3 linked regions of the Homo sapiens genome follow. The protein of the gene in region 1 interacts with the protein of each later gene in a pairwise test. Each region holds a gene or a part of one and is shown on either strand. Other genes may lie near its edges.

Evidence for each region.
Region 2: the proteins of VANGL1 (region 1) and RAPGEF5 interact in a two-hybrid assay, tested with the Homo sapiens proteins (one large-scale study listed by BioGRID and IntAct).
Region 3: the proteins of VANGL1 (region 1) and NT5C3A interact in a two-hybrid assay, tested with the Homo sapiens proteins (one large-scale study listed by BioGRID and IntAct).

Annotation. Positions count from the first base shown.
Region 1 is NC_000001.11:115,696,270-115,698,808, forward strand, and holds the end of VANGL1 (vang-like protein 1), read left to right. Parts: 3' UTR 1-1,952; downstream 1,953-2,539.
Region 2 is NC_000007.14:22,117,690-22,120,562, reverse strand, and holds the end of RAPGEF5 (rap guanine nucleotide exchange factor 5), read left to right. Parts: 3' UTR 1-2,327; downstream 2,328-2,873. UniProt on the Homo sapiens protein: Guanine nucleotide exchange factor (GEF) for RAP1A, RAP2A and MRAS/M-Ras-GTP. Its association with MRAS inhibits Rap1 activation.
Region 3 is NC_000007.14:33,052,614-33,056,276, reverse strand, and holds part of NT5C3A (cytosolic 5'-nucleotidase 3A), read left to right. Parts: intron 1-3,663. UniProt on the Homo sapiens protein: Nucleotidase which shows specific activity towards cytidine monophosphate (CMP) and 7-methylguanosine monophosphate (m(7)GMP). CMP seems to be the preferred substrate.

The sequences.
Region 1 (2,539 bases):
GAGAGGGGCTGTCCACAGCCCCATCCTGTGGGGATCTCAAGCCGGAGTCCCTGGCCTGGCCTCCTTGACGTAGGTGTTCTCAGCAAGCAGTTTGCATCCCACCGTCTTTCTCACACTTGCCCCCAAGACTTTTGACAGAGCAGACGTAAAACAGGACTCAGAAAACCATTTTTCTCTGTTCCCATATGTAGTAAGTTTTGATTCAGTTGTGCATAAACCATAGTTTTCTGCCCTGCTGTTTGCTTTCAATGGAAGACAGTAAAGGGAAGATGGTGCTCACATCTCTCCATGTGACATCTCATTAGGAATTAAGATGCGATGGATTAGAAATGTAAAACTTCAGAATAAAATTAAATTTCAGGGCTCTATAAGTCCCGTTTTCCCAGGTCCTGTTCCGTTTCTACGTAGATAACCCAATTTGTTTTGTCTATGAAATAAGCCTCTTTAGTGGGTTGTTTTAGTCTCTCCAACAAAAGAGCAGATTCCTAAAGCCAGGTGCAGCACTGTGAAAAGTTTCTTTCAATATGGCACCAAGACTCTACCATTTATGTCTCTCTCAGCTTACAAACATCAGCGTTTTGTCCTTGTCATAGTGGAAGAAAGACACTTACTTTAAGCTTTGGGGACAAAGGTGACAAACCCCAGGCTTTTATCTTAAAAGTGTCTTTGGCACTTCTTTTGGCACTGAAATGGTATTTGGGAAGCATTATTTGAATGTACAGTTGTTTGGTTTTGTATGTGCTTATCTTTATCTGAGCTTTCACTTGTAGACATGGCCTTTTGTTGTGAAGTTGCTCATCATTTAGGAGTGTTTAATTCTAAAAAGCCTTCAGCCTAAGAAAGCTTCATCTGTGGGGACCAGAGACTTGTTGCTCAGGGAGTTAGTGATGGGACTTGGGCATCTGATCTGCAGGTGACAAGTTTAGTTCAACTGAAGTTGTAGGGAATTTAGACAGTTGCACATCATTGCCGTTCTAGGGGCCTTGTAGAAAGATGAAACAGTTGTTTTTCATTTACCAGCACCTCTCAGTTATAGAGGTAATGGAACATTCGCTTACTTTTCATCATCATTCTTTAAAAAGGGAACATACAAAAATCTAAACTATGGCAATAATTTATTTTTATAATAGTTTACGGTAGGCTTTAATTAAATGGCAAACTCCTCTGGGACCCCTAAGTTATGGCGTGATTAGCCAAATTTGATTTCCAACAGTCATTTATGGCCATAACTATTGCATAGAGTGCAGGATGCCAGCAAAGATGAGGGTGGGGGCAGATACTGGCTCAGTGATTTAACTCACATTATAGATGACCCCTTCCTCAACAGAAATGCTACTGAGAGAACCAGAGAGGCCTGGGCCAGGCAGGTCTTATTTGAGAGGAGATTATTTGATAATTGCTTTGGTTAGAAGGACTTTACATTTCCTGATTTCAAGTCCAGCACCAATTTAGAAAGTTCAGAGATGAAACCACCTGTCTTTACCTGACAGAGTCATAACGGTTTGTGTAAAAATGTGGTCAGGGACCTTTTTTGTTCTTTCTGATTAGTTAATACTGTACATTGTAACCAGGAGGGGCAGTTTTGCCAACCAGCCTCTGCTCATGGTCACCATATGTGTATGACAAGGCCTGAGTGAGTTCCTGCATAAACTGGGTAGTGGGCTCTTTTGACACATTTGCAAGCATGTAAATGAATGAATGACACTACCAGCAACCATCTGTACAGGTCCATTTACTTACATTCATAAGGTTTATGCTATGAAACTTCTTCTCATTGTGATGTCAGTAACAGAGTTAGTGTCTCTGATGGAATAGTGTACCTGTCACCCAAGTTATTTTGTTCCTTTTTGGGTCCTCCAGTATAATCCCCCCCTCATCCCAATTAACTGTAAAATGTTTTACACATCACATTTTTTATACTGTAAACTTGGAAAATAAACTGAAATATCAAATTGTGTCTTGTTTCTTTTCTTCATGTGATTATTTCAATCTAAAAAGTTGCTTACTTTTTCAGGGACATTTTTCACTCTCGCATAATTTTGAGACCTTCAGAATTTCAAGACAACCTGTCATATTTCTATAAAAACCAAGACAATTGTGATGGATTGGGAAAGTAGAATTACCATTGTAACAAAAACTACTAGTTGTCAATCATTTTACAGTGAAGAAAATGTTTTGAATAGATAACTAAAAATGAAATCCTCAGGCTCTAAAACATGGAGATGAAACAGATCTTTTGAGTAAACCAGCAAGTGGAAAGGTATTTGAGTCAAATAAGAAGACAGAAAAGTAACAGACTTTGGGTTGATGTGGGAGGTGAATATTGGATTATTTTCCTGAGTGGCTTGGGAATTCAAGTTAAATTATCAACTGATTTTAGATAGGTCTATTTAAAGGAAATTTGATTATTTGCAAAGAAATATGAAGCCTGTTTTCCGCTAACCTCAGTGGTAGAATTTTGACAGCACACAATCAAATTCTTAGCTATTGCATGGACAGAAATTAGAGAAAGCAATTGACTCAAAGATATTCATTGGTT
Region 2 (2,873 bases), on another chromosome or scaffold:
CAGTTACTAACAATAGCATGGGCTTACAGCACAAGCACGTGTTCTCACCTTTTTCCTATGCCCTGGACTAAGGTTTGGCCAGTGTAATCATATAAGGCCATCCTGACATTGTTTCTGTGTTTCAAAATTTGGATTTTTATTTACATTAGAACTACATTGCTCCTAGTAGAACATTACCTTTAGGGGACTAATTTTCCATGGAGAACTATTTCAGCATATTGCATGCTGCTCAGACCCCAAGTCAGATATGCCCACCAAGCCAGATGAAGCTACACAAATGTGGTATTTAAATGCATTTTGTACAGTGACTTCAGAGTATCTCACATGACATGGGTGTAAACTGGCTGGGGAGAAAATGATGCTTGTTCACCTCTTCCTCCAGCCGTGGTTAGGTGGTCCTAGGGGTAGCAGAGGGAAGGGAGGATTTTGTGCAGTCAAGATTTGCTTTTCCATCCTTGTCTTCTGAATGTCTAAAATCTCTGCATCTTTCTGAAGTTTAACAACTGTCTCCAGAGGTTTGCCAGGCAGCAGCTCTCAGAAGTTTCCAAAGCTTTGCAGAATCTTAGATCTGGAATTAAAGAATTCAAGCCCGAATTGTGAGAACCAGATATTACTCAACAGAAAGCTCTTTCTAAGGAATCTGAGCTGTTCACTGGTGGACAGTGGTGGGGCTTGAGTGCTCCTTGTTAATAGGATGGGCCATGCACCCTCTCTGGATATTCACCAAGGCCTCTTCAGAATAGGGTTTGTTCTGGCTAGAAGCGTGGTCTAGAAGATGGCTAAGCTCTTTGCCAGCTCTCATTTGGAGTTTTATTATTGCATAAAATCTTCGCTCACTCTGCAAATCTTACGTAATCTGGCACCTTCGGCACCAGGTGGTGCAGGGGCACTTCTAAGTGGGCTCTTTTTGTTACAGCACAACTCTCAGACAGTCCTGTGGGTCTTTGGATTCGTCAGCATTCCAGCAAACTAGCCCTGCTTAGAAGTTAGCACAAGACAGCAGAATGCAGGACCCCGTAGGCAAAATCACAACCTTGCTATTAAAAAAAATTTTGTTTTACATACACATTTGCAGGTGTTCCCTAGAGTGTGGTGTTTTGAATTTGCTCTTTGTCATCTGTATAATTGCCAAATGATTATAGTGATACACATGACCTGCATTCACTTTTTTCTAGTTTCCTTAATTATGTTTAGAATAAATTCATTTCCCTAGACCGAGAACCACAAACAGGTAGTGTGGAGCATACACCGAATTTAGAAGCATGTGGATAAGGTCAGTGCTCACACTGCCTAGTCCACAGGGAGAGGATGCTGCATGAATATATACTTGCCTCTGAGTGGAGGAGAAATCGTGGCATGAAAGAGAGAGTACCAGTGATGACTTCTTATCCCTGGAGCTGGGCTTTCACTGCTACCCATATCCCAGCCCTGCGAGTCTGTTCTAGCCAGCACAGACACCGCAGATCCGGAACTGAATGTTCCTAAATGGCGCAGCCAATCCAGGCTTTTCAGAAACTGGGCAAAAACATTAAAATGGGGACGATCGGGTCTTCCGCAGTGGTCCAACACAGGATTTCTTTTAAATGTTTCAAAAACATGTCCTTAAAATTTCAGCCTGCTTCTTAGCGAGTGGGCCAGTTTTGCTTAAAACTGGTGGGGGGGCGGGGGGGAAGTTTTTAAAAATTGCCAAAAAGTTAGATGCAAATGTATTACTGTATAAAGCAAAGCTGTATATACTAAACATTTTTTAGCAGAGTAATATTTATTTGCATAGTCTATTTATTGTATTCGTATCACACTGTTATTAAATACTGGGATGAAATCAGTGACCTGAAGCAAGAAATCTTGCCTTTTAATGTATCATTAATTAGGGCTGCTGTGATATTGTCAGCTTGCATTAACAATTAGAAGATAGAGAACCCGCCATCAGGGTGTCTACCTAACTTCTCAGGGACTACACTTGGTAGTTTTCCACCATTTAAAGAACTGGTAAATATGAAACATTTGTTGAGTTACCAGAATTGCCATTAACAGTGTTTTCTTTCCCATATTCCATGCTTTCTGCCTCTGTGTATATATATAATATATATGTATATGACTGTGCTGTGTATTTATCGAAGCTAGTAAGCAATAATTTATATGTAAAAATGGCCAAGCAATATAAGGTTAAAACTTATATAAGTAACCCTTACCTTATCTTGTATTTTCAATTTTTTTTTAAAACTGCTTTTCCAAATATGAGACTATGTTAAAGACACTATTCATGCCTCTTAGTTTCTTGCTTTCTCTGTGATGTGTGTGGATTAAATAGCTCTGTTCTGGCAGCATATGATGCTCAGGGGGTTGGAACTCAGAAGTCATTTGCTCACTGAAAGAGCTACAAGTAGATGAAGAGGTTCTCAGGCAGCCCATAGAAGCCTAAATCACTTATCCTGCCATTGGGTTATTGCAGAACCTAAACACCCTATTTTGGAAATTGCATCAGTGTTCTCAGAGTCTGAAATCTGGGGAATCTGGCAACCATTGTCATTGCCTCACCCTACTTGAGCAGGACCAGGAACTGTCCCTCACCAGCCCAGATACTGAGTGCAGCTACCAGCCCAGTGGTGATGCCCGGGGCCCAGGATAGAGGTCCTGACAGCGGAAGAGCCATGAGTGGATGGAGCAGCACAGGGATAATAAGGATGCTCTGGGGCAGTGGGATGCCAGGCGGTATATACACTAGCGCAGACTGAGTGTTCAGCATCTTCTCTCTGTGTAAACAGGAAATTTGTACATCTTGCCCATCGAGGTCAAGTTTGGCCTTTGGCATGTGTCCATCTCCCCCTTGCAGGGGGATTATAAACCTCACCTTCTTGAACCCAGGAGTGGCC
Region 3 (3,663 bases), on another chromosome or scaffold:
TTTTGAATTCTTGATTTGTTTTGTAAAACATTTTCTCTGAATTCCTTTGGCATTTCCTGATGATTTCTCATAATTTAGCAATTTATACAGTGTCTCATATTGTTTATTATTATTTATGTTCCTTGAGGGTTGGAATGGGTGCTTTTCTTTTAGTCTTATTTATTTTTGAGACAAGGTCTCATTCTGTTGCCTGGGCTGGAATGCAATGACATGATGATAGCTCACTGTAGCCTCAAACTCCTGAGCTCAAGTATTCCTCCTGCCTCAGCCTCCCAGGTAGCTGGGAATATAGGCATGAGCCATTATGCCTGGCTAATTTTTTGTTTTCTGTAGAGACAAGACTTTGCTGTGTTGCCCAGGCTGGTCTCAAAATCCTGGGCTCAAGCAATCTTCCCACCTCAGCCTTCCAAAGTGCTGGGATTGCAGGCATGAGCCACCTGACTAGCTGGTCTCTTTAAAAATTAGTTGCACTTGACTAAGAGAAAGAGAGACCCCAAAACAGTGGCTTCAGTAAACAGTAAATTTTATTTTTCTAATGGAATGACAATTCCAAAAAACAGGCAGTTGCTTGTGTTAATTAGGGCCATAAGGATACCAAGGCATAGGTCTTTGACATTTCCCTTGTCTTTTCTTCATGGTCGTGAGATGGTCGTTCCAGTCATGGCCAATGCGTCCATGTTTCAGGCAGCAGAAAGGTGGAATCAGGGAAGAAAATACCTATTTCAGTCAAGCTGAATTTTCTGCTTACAGATAATTGGAGAGAACAAGGTTATATGGCTACCCTTATGTAAGTGAAGTTGAAGAATTGTTTTCTGATTGAGCACATTTGCCACCTTCCAACAAAAATGAGATATTATTAGTAAGAAAGAAAGGGAGAGAGTCCATTAATTGGTTACTTATAATACAGCAGTAGAGAACACAAACTCAGAACAGCTTCTGTCTTCTTTTTTTTTTTTTCCGACACCAAGTCTCGCTTTGTGCTGGAGCGCAGTAGCATGATCTCAGCTCACTGCAACCTCTGCCTCCCAGGTTCAAGCAATTCTCATGCCTCAGTCTCCCGAGTAGCTGGGACTATAGACAGGCACCACCACGCCCAGCTAATTTTTGTATTTTTAGGAGAGATGAGGTTTCTCCATATTTGCCAGGCTGGTCTTGAACTCCTGACCTCAGGTGATCCGCCCGCCTTGGCCTCCCAAAATGCTGGGATTACAGGTGTGAGCCACCATGCCCGATAGCATGTATCTTTTGTTTACCCCGAGTAAAGATATATTCATTCACACTTGAAATATCTAGATTTTAAGTAGCTCTCAACACATAGCCACCTCCTTTGTATGTCCTAGTGAGATGTGGAAGCTAATCTCCCAATTATGTGTCACAACTAGCTTCAAAACTATAGACCTAACAGTACTCCAAAATGAATGCAGATTGAGCATCCCTAATCTGAAAATCTGAAATCCAAAACTCTTCAAAATCTGAAGCTTTTTGAACGCTGACATGATGCCACACAAGTGGCTGAGATATTGACACCTTTGCTTTCTGATGGTTAAGAGTACACAAATTTGTTTTAGCCACAAAATTGTGTAAAATATTTTATAAAATTACTTTTAGGCCATGTATATAAGGTAGATGTGAAACATAAATGAATTTCATATTTAAACTTGGGCACCATCCCCAAGATATAATGTATGTGCAAATATTCCAAAATCCCAAAATACCCGAAATCTGGTCCCAAGCAGTTTGGGTAAAGGATACTCTCAACCTGTGTAAGGTTGTGAGACATAGCAACAAAAGGCTATGTGATAAAGAAACAGGAAATGACATTGCATAATGATTCATGGCTGTGGTGATGTTTGAAGGATAAAAATCATGATTGTTCCAGTTTGAAAAACAGAGAAATACATTAAATTCTTTTTTTTTTTTTTTGAGGCAGGGTCTTACTCTGCCACCCAGGCTGGAGTGCAGTGGCACCATCATGGCTCACTGCAGCTTTGACCTGCTTGACTCAAGTGATCCTCCTACTTCAGCCTCCCAGGTAGCTGGGACTACAGGTGCATGCCACCATGCCTGGCTTATTTTTGTATTTTTTGTAGAGATGGGGTTTTGCCATGTTGCCCACCTGGTCTCAAACTCCTGGCTTAAGCGATCCTCCTACCTCTACCTCCCAAAGTGCTGGGATTACAGACATGTGCCACCATGCCCAGCCCATTAAACTCAACATTATCAAAGGCTATATTCAAGATGATCTTGAATTCCCAAATTTGTAAACGTGGAAATGTTTGTACCAGGCATGTATGACTTTGTCCTTTCAAATCATGTTTGTCAGGTTTCCTGTAGATTATCCATATGCCACAAGTTAACCACATTTTCAACTTTAATGCAAAGTTGTTCTCTTATCTAGTGAGCTACTTGTATATTAGCTAGAAACAGCTCCTTCCTGAAACAGTTTTAGCTTTACAATTTTTTTTCTCTTTCCTTTTGTTGTGAATTCATTTACCTAACAGATGGAGTCCCCTTTGAACTGGATACTTAATTTTAAATTTATTCACAAATTTTTTTCTGACTAAAAGCCATTACTTCTTTCTTTCTTTCTTTCAGTCATTTATTTATTTATTTTAAGAAATGGGATCACAGTCTGTGAGCCAGGCTGGAGTGCAGTGGTACAATCATAGCTCATTGCAACCTCGACCTCCTGGGCTCAAACCGTCTTCCCCCCTCAGCCTCCCAAGTAGCTGGGATTACAGACATGTGCCACCATGCCTGACTAATTTTATTTTTAGAGACAGGGTCTTGTGGCTGGGCACGGTGGCTCACGCCTGTAATCCCAGCACTTTGGGAGGCCAAGGTGGGCAGATCTTGAGGTCAGGAGTTCTGGAGCAGCCTGGCCAACATGGTGAAACCCTGTCTCTACTAAAAATACAAAAATTAGCCAGGCGTGGTGGCACAAACCTGTAATCCCAGCTACTCAGGAGGCTGTGGCAGGAGAATTACTTGAACCCGGGAGGCAGAGGTTGCCGTGAGCCAAAATTACACCATTGCACTCCAGCTCTGGGCAACAGAGCAAGACTCTGTCTCGAAAAAAAACAAAAACAAAAACAGACAGTGTCTTGTTATGTTGCCCAGGCTCATTACATCTTTAGATCCTTTTACTTTCTTCACCTCGGTTACCAATACTAGCCATTGATTGGCGGGCAAGAGGTGGGCATTTTTTCCTACAATACAGCAATTTTTTACAACCTGGCTAAGGCTCCTAAGAGCTGGTTATATAAACCATGACAACTAGAGAAGGATGAAACCTTATTTTGAAATACAGGATCCCATATACTAGTGTTTTACACCAATGGTACTCAAAGAGTGGTCCCAGACCATGGCATCAACATTGAGCAGGAACTTGTTATATATGCGAGTTATCTAGTCCTACTCCAGACAAACAATCAGAAACTTTGAGGTTGGACCCAGCAGTCTGTTTTAACAAGCCTGCAGGTGATTGTGATGTGTGCTAAAGCTTGAGAATCATTTAAGTAAACAATTAAAATTCTTACTACAGCAAAATGCAAATTTTATGTGTAACAAAACTTCCAGGTTACTTGCTCACAAATAATAGAATCGGTGCTGCCAGACAATTACTGTATAAAGAGAGAGTGATGAGGATATAGAAAAATAGGT